Regions from separate parts of the Homo sapiens genome. Here region 1 is linked to region 2. Evidence: fine-mapped expression QTL. A gene starts in region 2. The other region holds a variant in brackets. All regions are shown on one strand. Distances are between the middles of the regions.

What was found. PIP is the estimated chance that this variant, and not a neighbour inherited with it, causes the effect. A credible set is the group of variants that fine-mapping cannot tell apart.
Region 1: its variant is the best candidate, but not a certain one, in a credible set for the expression of RAMP1 in whole blood (TOPMed, PIP 0.70).

What each region holds. Positions count from the first base shown.
Region 1 is chr2:237,898,633-237,904,004 of GRCh38, reverse strand. All of the region lies in intron 2 of RAMP1 (receptor activity modifying protein 1), which reads right to left. Among named protein-coding and RNA genes, the nearest start is that of RAMP1, 42 kb to the right of the region's middle. RefSeq lists enhancers at 4,843-4,952, 5,033-5,082, 5,050-5,372. The variant C/A (reference allele first, on the strand shown) is at 2,732.
Region 2 is chr2:237,856,670-237,862,041 of GRCh38, reverse strand. RAMP1 (receptor activity modifying protein 1) reads right to left here and starts at 2,419. Exons shown (of 3, transcript NM_005855.4): 1 at 2,315-2,419. The coding sequence starts at 2,366. RefSeq lists enhancers at 3,032-3,818, 3,819-4,607.

The sequences.
Region 1 (5,372 bases), 42 kb before region 2:
CGCTGGGGGAGGCCTAGGCCGGAGGATTGCTTGAGCCTAGGAGTTTGAGAGCAGCCTGGGAAACATAGTGAGACCTTGTCTCTACAAAAAAATACAAAATGGCTAACACAGTGAAACCCCAACTCTACCAAAAATACAAAAAATTAGCCGGGCGTGGTGGCGGGTGCCTGTAGTCCCAGCTACTCGGGAGGCTAAGGCAGGAGAATGGCGTGGACCTGGGAGGTGGAGGTTGCAGCGAGCGGAGATCGCACCACTGCACTCCAGCCTGGGTGACAGAGCGAGACTCTGTCTTAAAGAAACAACAACAACAAACATTTGCCAGTGCTGGGATGCACCTGTAGTCCCAGCTAGTTGGGAGGCTTAGGTCAGAGGATCACATGAGCCCAGGGAGGTGGGAGATTGAGGCTGCAGTGAGCTATGTTCCTGCCACTGCACTCCAGCCTGGGCAACAGAATAAGACCCTGTCTCAAAAAAAAAGAAAATAATGCTGAATGCTAGTGAAGGTGTAGGATACTGAGGCAGGCACTCATAGCAATCCTCAGGGAAGATAAACTGGTACAATTTTTCTGAAACACAATTTGGCAATATGTATCAATAATCTCAAACTCACGGATGCCTCTTGACCCCGTAATTGCATTACTGGGAATTATCCTAAATTAATAATGTGAAATATAGATAACAGTGATGTAAGAAGGTGTCCACTGCAGATTTATAATTATGAAAAACAGCAAACAACAGGACAGCGGTCACAGAAATTGTTTATGAGTGGCTCCATTATGTAGCTGTTAAAATTATATTTAGGAAGAAAATTTTAAGATGTGGAAAAACATTTATGTTCTAAAGCTGGGCAGAAGAACAGCTCTCATGCCTGTGATCCTAGCACTTTGGGAGGCTGAGGCAGGAGGATCGCTTGAGGCCAGGAGTTCAAGACCAGCCTGGGCAACCTAGTGAGACCCAGTCTCTCTGCTAAATAAATAAATAAAGTTTTGAAAAGCAGCAGCAGGTTAGACCAGGTGCCATAAACAGCCTGGATTGGGGTAAAATGGTCCACATGGGAGGGGGACACAGCAGAATGTCACAGGAGTGATCCCCACCAGAATGGTAATAACACGAAGGACTTTTCTCTCAACTTTTTTGGGTTTTCTACCTTGAGCATACATACTTTTTATAATTATATTTAACAGCTCATTTTAGCAGGAAGGCTCACAGGAAACTAGATGTTGGCGTCACTGCATCTGCAGCCACCGTGCCTGGTGTCTGGGGCAGCCTGGGTCTTCCCACCAGAGGGCTCTGATGTGCAGGCAGGGCTGGGACCCTCTGGTGACAGCGGCTCATGGGGGAGGCGTGCAGGGCAGACAGGGAGCGGGGACGGGGCGTTGGGCCTCTCCAGTCTCAGTGGCCTCCTGCGTGGAACTGGGGGCCCCGCGGGACCCAACTCTGAGGCAGGAAGGGGCTCTGTGGAAGGGTGAGTGGGGGTGCGGGGTGGGCCCTGGGGGCAGGACCCCACTTTCCTCCTCGCTGTGTTCCCCCCACCCCCTCTGCGGAGACCTCTGCGTCCTCCTGGTCCTCCTGTTCCCTCCTCCATCTCCCTGTCCTTCTGGCCCCTCCTCTTCCTCCTGATCCCTCTCTCCTCCTGGCCTCTCCCTCCTCCTCCCAGCCCCTCCTCCACCCCCTGATCCCTCCCTCCTCCTCCCAGCCCCTCCTCCTCCTCCCGATCCCTCCTTACCCCTCCCTCTTCCACCTCGCCCTTGCTCCAGGCCCCCACCTCATCCTCACTCCAGCCTTGCTCCGGGTGGCAGTGGGGCATCCTCACTCACTGAAGACCCCGGGCCCTTACCAGCCCCCGGAGGAGAGGCATCCCCCGCGAAGTGCTCCTTCTCTCTCGGCCTTGGGCTGCACCTGAGAGTTCCCCATTCTCCCTCCTCCACCTGAAGCCTGGGCTGTTCACTTCTGGCTGTGAACACATGTGACTCAGGGCCCCCATGCCATGCCTATCCCCTGAGTTATCATGGCTCCCCTTTCCCTCAAGGGTGCCCTCCCCTCCTGAGGCCCCATCACTGTGCCCAGGATGGGGCAGAAGTGACTCGTCCTGGTGGATGGGTTATTACAACTTACATACCAGCTTCCACTTTTCTGTAGTGAGTATGTGGGGGCTTGGCATCTATCTACCCCTTCTTCTGCCTCCCCCAGTTTAGTCAGGGGCAGCCATCAAACCCCTCCACCGCCCTCCACTCTGCATGCTGGGCTTAGCTACCACGGGCTCTCCAGGCCACATCCCACACCCTGGCCGCTGCCCAAGCCCACCGTCCACACCTTCCCACCCCTGCTTCACGCCTTCAGTGCTCACCATTACACCTGTCCCAGATTCAGAAGCTTCTGTGTGGGTCACTCAACTGGGTCCCCTCCCTCCTGCTGGCCACATTCTAGCCACAGTGGCCAGTGTTCTGCCTCAGGACCTTTGCACATGCTGTTCCTTTTAACTGGAAAGCTCTTAGCCTCATCTTCACAAGGCCACCCTATGCTCGCCCTTCGCTTAAATGTCACGTCCTCAAAGAGGCCTTTTCTGGATGCTTCAATCATATTTGGCTTCCCCAGCAAAGTGGGGTTTTCCTTCATAGATGGGTGTTACTTTGTGGCTGTCCATGAACTCATGTGATTATTCACCCACTGTTGGTCTCAACAACCAGACTGCAGACACCACCGGGGCAGGGAGGGTAAGAGCAAAAATCCC[C/A]CTTACTCTGGTCACAGTGGCCACCTCCAAGGCAAAGTGAAACAAAGCCTGAAGGAAGACAGCGAGAGAGGGATGTACCCAGGAGACGCAGACAGAAGGTGAGCAGGGGTGTGGGCTTCCCAGCAGACCTGGCCCAGGCCGGTGAGAAGGGCCATCAGTGGGGCTGATGGGGATGCTCCACCCAGGACAGCTGGCACTGCGCCACAGCGTACAGACAGCCCGCAGCTGCCAGGAACGCAAGACACGTGGGAGACTTAAACACACCTCCCAAGGCTAGGTAGATAAACAGTAGCATAAAGTGATTATGAAAAATAATGTTAATAAACCGATGCAGTGACTGTCTGATAAAGGTTCTATTCTACAGAGACTCAGCCGGCTTTTCAAAGGCCCCTGGGTCTGTGTTAGGCGGCAAAAAGAGACTCATCAAATCCCCAGAGTATAAATCATAAGTCAATATTCTCAGGCTACAATACTGAAAACTAAAAATTAGTTTTAAAAAAAGGATAAATTTAAAAAAATGGAATTCCTAGAAATGAAAGATCATTTATATAATTTCGAAGTCACAGGAGAATTTAAAAATTCAATTACAAAATATTAAGAGAACAAGATCGGCAATACTATATGTACAAATGAATGGAATGGGGCAAAAGTGAATTCTGAGAAAAATTAATAGTTATAAATTATTTTATTAAACAAAAATAAATGAAAATAAACAAAATAAGTATCCAAAGCAAGATATTTTTTAAAAAGAACAAAATAAATCTCTCCAAATGGCACATAATTTGTCCATCAATAATTATTAGAAGCAATATAGGCCAGGTGCGGTGGCTCACGCCTGTAATACCACCACTTTGGGAGGCCGAGGTGGGCAGATCACTTGAGCTCAGGAGTTCAAGACCAGCCGGGGCAGCATGGCGAAACCCCATCTCTGCTGAAAATATCAAAATTAGCCAGGCATGGTGGCACACACCTGTAGTCCCAGTTAACTTGAGTGGCTGAGGCACGAGAATGCCGTGAACCCAGGAGGCAGAGGTTGCAGTGAGTCGAGATCGTGCCACTGCACTCCAGCCTGGGCGACAGAGCCAGACACTGTCCTAAACAAACAAACAAATAAACAAAAAACAAAAAACAGAAAAGAAAAAGAAGAAGTATAAGAGATTAATACGTAAAAAAGGTTTGTTAAAAATTGGAAAATCCTCAGTGAATTGGGATACTTTTTGGTTAAATTATAAACTATCAAATATCGACTTAAAAAGGAGGAATTCCAAGAAGAAAAATGGCAAATGTTATTAAAGAATTGCTGTTTCAAAAGGCACTAGATCCCAGGCAGTTCTTTCAAATTCTTTTTTTTTCTTTTTAATTGAGACAGGTTCTCACTATGTTGCTCAGGCTGGTCTCAAACTCCTGGGCTCAAGCGATCCTCCCACCTCGGCCTTCCAAAGTGCTGGGATTACAGGTGTGGGAGGCGTGAGCCACTGCAAATTCTTAAAGTGAAAGAAAAAGATGTGCAGCTTCCCAGTTCATTTAAAAAAGTTAACAAACCCTGATCCCAAGCCTCTTGAGATGGCATGACATGCGTCTCAACGCATGCGCACACGGACGGAACAGATGCCCTTCGCTTCCACCTATAAATAGACACTCAAGTCCCCTACCCAATGCTAACAAACTTCATCTAGCCACATAGCATATTTTATTTAAAGGAGGGCTAATTTCAGGAATGCTTTAAACCTGTTACTACAAAATCACACTTTAATACACCATGGGAAAAAAATGTACCGTCATTTTAATACGCATTGAGAAGGCATTTGAGAAAACTCAATATTCTTTTCTGATTTTAAAAAAGCCACAACCTTGAAAACACAGAAAGAAGCTATTTTCTTCATGTGATAAAAATCTCTCTCTCGGCCAGGTGCAGTGGCTCACGCCTGTAATCTCAGCACTTTGGGAGGCCGAGGCGGGCGGGTCACCTGAGGTCAGGAGTTCGCGACCAGCCTGGGCAACACGGTGAAACCCCATCTCTACTAAAATACAAAAAATTAGCTGGGTGTGGCAGCGTGTGCCTGTAGTCCCAGCTACTCAGGAGGCTGAGGCAGGAGAATTGCTTGAACCCGGGAGGCGGAGGTTGCAGCGAGCGGAGATCATGCCACTGCACTCCAGCATGGGTGACAGAGTGTGACCCAGTCTCAAAGAAAAAAAAAAAATCACTGTCTCAAACCAATAGCATGCACCCCATTTAGGACTGGAACACAGTGGCATTTTCGTGGCAGCCAGCAACAGGCTTATTTCGCATTTAGGCAGCCAGGGCTGGCTTCTCCCTTGTGGTTTCTGCCTTTGGTGTCAGGGCTCACACCCAGGATTCTGTGAATAGCGGGACCTTTCCAAAGCAGGGAGGGGCTGGCCACTTACTGCGCCACTTCCTCTGTTGACAGAGAGCCACGCTGTGGCCTGGCCTGGCGTGCGTCAGGTGTGGAGCAAGCACAGGGCCAGCTTGTCTTTAAGAGGCCTCAGCCCGGGCCCTGGGGATGTGAAAGCCCACGCAGTGTAGCTTCCCACCTACGTCTGCGTGTGTGAGCTCGGGAGCCTGGCTTCCTGTCTCACTTCTGCCCAGCACTGCTGGAGGCAGCAGAGAACTGGGCACCTT
Region 2 (5,372 bases):
CCCTGAGTGAAGATGGACTCGAAAAACCAGGGGCTTCTAACGCATCCTTCTTTCCTGGTTAACGAACAGCTTTTCGGTGTCTATACACAAACTTTTCAGAATGCATGTAGAGTCTCCAGTAAACAGAAGAGTACACAGGATGCTCAGAGGGAAAAGAACTATATATGGATCCTAAGTTTTTTTTTTTTTTGAGACGGAGTTTCACTCTTATCACCCAGGCTGGAGTGCAGTGGCATGATCTCAGCTCACTGCAACCTCTGCCTTCTGAGTTCAAGCGATTCTCCTGCCTCAGCCTCCCAAGTAGCCGGGATTATAGGTGCCTGCCACCATGCCTGCCTAATTTTTTTTGTATTTTTAGTAGAGACGGGGTTTCACCATGTTGGCCAGGCTGGTCTTGAATTCCTCACCTCAGGCGATTCACCCACCTCAGCCTCCCAAAGTGCTGGGATTACAGGCGTGAGTCACCATGCCTGGCCGGATTATGAGATTCTTAATAACTACCTAAGACAAATAGCTTGATTGTAAAATTGTCACAGATAAGTTCTTAAACCTGTAAACTAGAGTACTTAAAAAAATTCCACATTGCCATTCTTGGTAGCAAAATCTTCATCACCAAGGAGACCTGGCTAGTGCTACAGCTTGGGAAGGAAACAGCCTGTGCTCAGTAATTCTACTAATTACAGCTGGGCTCCAATGACATTAATTTACTGATAACCTCATAAAGTTTTGTTTGTTCTTCCAAGAGATAACATTAGCCAGGCCACTCAAAATAACGTTAAAATTACAGGACTTTGGACTTTCGGCAGAACATGAATAGTTTTCTCGGTAAACAAGGAAGGTCTTTATATGTGATCGTGACATAGTGTTTTATTTACACAAGCTTTAGAGGGTTCAGCCTCTGGACACTAGTAAAGAACGTTTATTTATTTGGTTATTTATGTAAAAAATATTCCACAACCCAGCTCTCTGCCTTGCTAACAAAGAAATGTTTGTTTCTTAGTAAATGAAAACAGTGAAGGCCATGTCAAGCCAAATGGAGAGAATAAAATTACTGCGAGATTCTGCTTTCCACGTAACTTCAGCCAAAACTCTAAAGTGGCAAGATCCGCTTTCAGATTATATTATATCGGCCTCTGAGGATTCTATGCAGATCTGCCACCCCTTGGAGAGGTTTACAAATAGGGAACAGAAATCCATGGCTCCCAAGAAGCCCTGGCCCCTCTCCTCGCTGGGCCACGAACCACTCCCCCAGCTACAACAGCGCCGGTGGTCCCTGCTTGCCCAGTGCCAGCGCCAAAGAGGTCTTGTGCGGCAGGTGCCTCTGACCAACATCACTGTTTCCGGGGAAAGGCCACACATACCAGAAACAACTGCTCCGGCCTTCCCAGGGACACTGGGTTCTCCCACGCCAGTAACCTATTCACAGTTTCCGTTAAAAGGTAGCTAAATACACGGAATAATGCAATAGCCAAAGCGGTTTAGAAGGGGCTTGAGTTAGCATTTTAGGAACACATTACAGACAAGGGAAGTGAACAGCACCGTTTCTTGCCGAGTGTGTGGCCAGTTCCTGTGGCCATGAGGCTGCCGCTAATCTCCACTTCTCCCTCCAAGTGGAAAGCCAAACGTGTTCCACCACTTCACCAAGGGACCCGTCCTTCTTTAAATTTCTATTAGCCAAAAGTGCCAAGTTAACAAGCAAACCAAAAGAAAAAAGAAAAAAAGCGATGGAAGTGTCCCGAAAAGGGCTGGCCTCATTTCTGCAAAAGACGTGATTTGCAAACAAGCAACTGCTGCAGGCGACAGATTGTCAGTGTTGACTAATTTCCATACAAACCGGCTGTGGTTCTGATTCCCGAACACTGCGTCTTCTGCAAGGTGCCCGTCTGCAGGTTTTGCAACGCGGGACGGCCTAGGGAAGGGAGCCTGCGCTGGCAGTCACCGCGGCGCACAGCCTGAGAAACGAGGTGCGGGGCTGGGGAACCCCGCGTCCTGTTTTTCCTTCTGAAAACTAGTTCTCCAGTGTGCAGGGCTGACTCACCCCACGCTTTCCAGAATGCCCGCTCTCCGACGTCCCCAAAGCCGTCCCTTCCCCGGCGAGAAGCGCAACACCGGTCCGCGCCCTCCGCCTCCCCTGTGCCCTGGGGCCTCCCGCCTGGAACCGGGGCGGCCCGCGTTCAAGGGCAGCGGATCTGTGCGCCCGCGGCGCCCGCCCCCACCCGCTCCCACCCGCTCCCACCCGCTCCCCTCCTCTCCCCTAGAGGACACCGGCTGGCCAGGGGAAGGGAGCTCGGCCGGGACCCCTGGACCTACTCACCCAGGAGCAGCCAGAGGCCGCGCCGCGGGAGGCGGCACAGGGCCCGGGCCATGGTGCACAGCGGTGCCGAGTCGAGTCCGCTCGCCACGCGCCCCGCTGAGGACTGAGCCCGCCGCGGCGCGGGCCCGGAGGAGACGCGCCGGGGGCGGGAGCGGGCGCGGGAGCGGTGGGAGGCGGCGGCCGCGCGGCCCGGCCCACTGCGGCTCCCCGCGTGGGTGCCAGGGCCGGGGGCGCCCAGGGCCGGTAAAACTTTGCAGGGGGGCCGCGCGGGCGTCTCCAGGCCCCTCCCGGGGGGCGGCACACTTGGGGTCCCAGGAAGGCCTCCTGAAATGTTCTCCGAGCAAATAAACACTTTTTAAACTAGGGAGGGTCTCCTAGACGACTCAGCGTGAGGGGCACCTTGGTCTCCACCTGGGGATCTTCCCCTCCTCCTCCTCCGAGGTTCTGGGCGTTCCTGCCTGGTGTTTGCCTTGCAAAAGGCTAAGATCTCCCAGCCTTATCTACCTCTCCGCCCAGGTGCAGGCGCTGGGGAGCGTGGGGGGCAAAACTCGCCACCGCGCCTGGCGAGACCCGTAGTAACCCAAAATGGCGCACACTTACCAGGCCCTGGAATGCTGCTCCAGATCTGCAGGATGAGTGGGTGGGCAGAGGCGGGGACAGCACGGCAGGTGAACAGAAGCCGTGGGGCTGGAGGAACAGGGCTCTTTGGGGGGATTGAGATGGCCTGGGAGTCTTGCTGTTGATGGGTAGGTAGCGAGAGCCTGGCAGGAGGTTGTGAGGGCCTGGCCACAGAGTCTTGAGATGAGGTTTGCTTTGGTGGCACTCTGGCAGCTGCATGGAAAACTGATGGGGGATCTTGGGTACATTCGTTTATGTAAAGTGGTGAGAGGAGGGCGCTCTGGAGATGGGCCGGGGAAGCCTGCGGAGGAGCAGGTTTTGGGAGGCACAGGCCTGGCCTCTCGGCATTACTGGTGGCTGGATTTCACTTGCAGTGGTTCCTTCTTGTATTATCCTGTTCCGAGAACTCTTAGCAACAGTAAATTTATACTTGTGCTAAGGAATGCACCACTGCCCTTGGAGGGGGAAGAATCACCACCCTGGTGCTGCGGCCACAGCTGTCTCTTTTGTGGTGGAAGCTGCAAGCGCACAGCATTGCTGAGTGACCATCGTTTTCTCCTAGGAAAGGGAACAGTCTGTGGCTGAGAGGCTGCTGCCACCTGCAGTAAGCTCAGAGAAGGGGAGACAGCTGACAGCGAGGTCATCCACTGGTTCTTCTAACACAGGCTGGGAGGGCACTCAGGGCCAGCATGCCTACCACCTGTGCAGGGGCCCCAAGTGTTCTGAGAGTGAGGGGTGAGATGGTGGGGGAGGGCACACATTCTCTTGACTTGATTAGCCCTTGTTCTTGAACCCTAGGAGATACACCCCATTGGGTGGCCTGGCATCCCTACTTTCTTCATTTAACAGACATTTGTGTCCCTATGTGCAAGACACTGTTAGATCGACAAGCCCTGCCCTTCAATTGGTGAATCTAGGGGGTGACCTCTAAGACTCTCAATAACATGAGCGCCACAATACAGGAGCCACCCGGAACAAGGGACACTCGCCTCAGCTGCAGTGCAAGTAAGGAGACAAAGGATTCTGGACAAAATGCAGCCCAGGCAGTCCTGAGGGCTGGGTGGAGAGAAGGGCACAAGGGAAATGCAGGCCCGAGCACAGGCCTGGCAGCCAGAGGCCGTGCCATGTGAGAGCAGCACAGCTAGTGGGGAAGGGTGGCTGCCAGCACAGCCCTGGGACAGGGCCACCGTACATCCTGCACTAGGCGATGGCCAGTCATAGTGGGGGAGAAGAACCTGCATCTTTCTGCAGCCATCACTCGCCCTCCATATCCAGGGACTCTGGCTTGAGCCACCCTTTCTACTTGTAGCTTGTGGACTTTGGCTGCATGTTTTTGGTTGGCAACTGGGACTCCTCTTTCATCAGGCTCAGCAGGAGTCTTTCTTCCCAACGTTTTCTCTTTGAAGCTTGACTGCAAGGAGGCAAGGCCAGAGGCCCCTGTCACTGCTGTTTTCTCAACACCCCCTAAAGGATACATTTTCCTAAGAAGACAAAGCCTATTTCTCAAGTTCACATGCTTTAGAAATTCACAGTTCTCTGGAGAATGCTGAAGTAAGGCACACACCTAGAGGCATGTTCTCTCCTAATGATTTTCCTGTCTGTACCTTGGGTCTAAGTAAGACATTCCTTAGCAACTACTATGGGCTTCCCGTCTTCAAAAGTTGTAGTCTGATGTATCTGTATTTCTAATTGGTCATAGGTAGCATGGAAAATCATTCCTCTCCCAGGGTACCTCAATCTAGAGGGGCATTAGGTTAAACAATAGAAGAGATTAGAAAATGGCCAAGTGCTTTACTGCATACACAGTAGGGCTAAAGATACAATCAAAGCCTGGTCAACACTGCTAAAAATTCACTATTAACATAAGATTCCTGCTTCCAGCCGAGATGAAGTTACAGGGACTGGACTCACCTTCCCATCTTAAACTAAAAAACTGGACAAAATGTATGAAACAACAGTTGTCACAGTGGACCACAAGAAGTGCAGGGACCCCTGAGAGCAGGGAAACAAATAAGGTGAGTGCTACAACTGCTCACTGCCTGGAGTTTGCAGACCACAGATGGAGAAAGGAAACCCAAAGAGAGTCTGGGGAAGCCAGGCAGTTAACGCTGGCAGGGCATAGTACCAGAGAGGAAAGAGCTGCGCAAAGAATGCGCTTGCGAGATCACAGAGGGTCCCACTTGAGTCTCAGCCCACACATCTAAGGACACTACCCAAGGGAAAAGAGCCTAAGAGCCCACACCCAGCTGGGAATAGTTCCAGTTCCCACCAACCATAGTGGAAAAATCTTGAAATACACAGAACATCAGAGCATAATTAGAAGGGCAAGTCCCTCTCTGTAGTCAGTAAAAATTACAAAGGCTATTCTGGTGCTGCCTAACAAAACTTAAAAGCAAGAACTAACAGGAGCAAATGATTTCCAAGTAGCTATTACATCCCG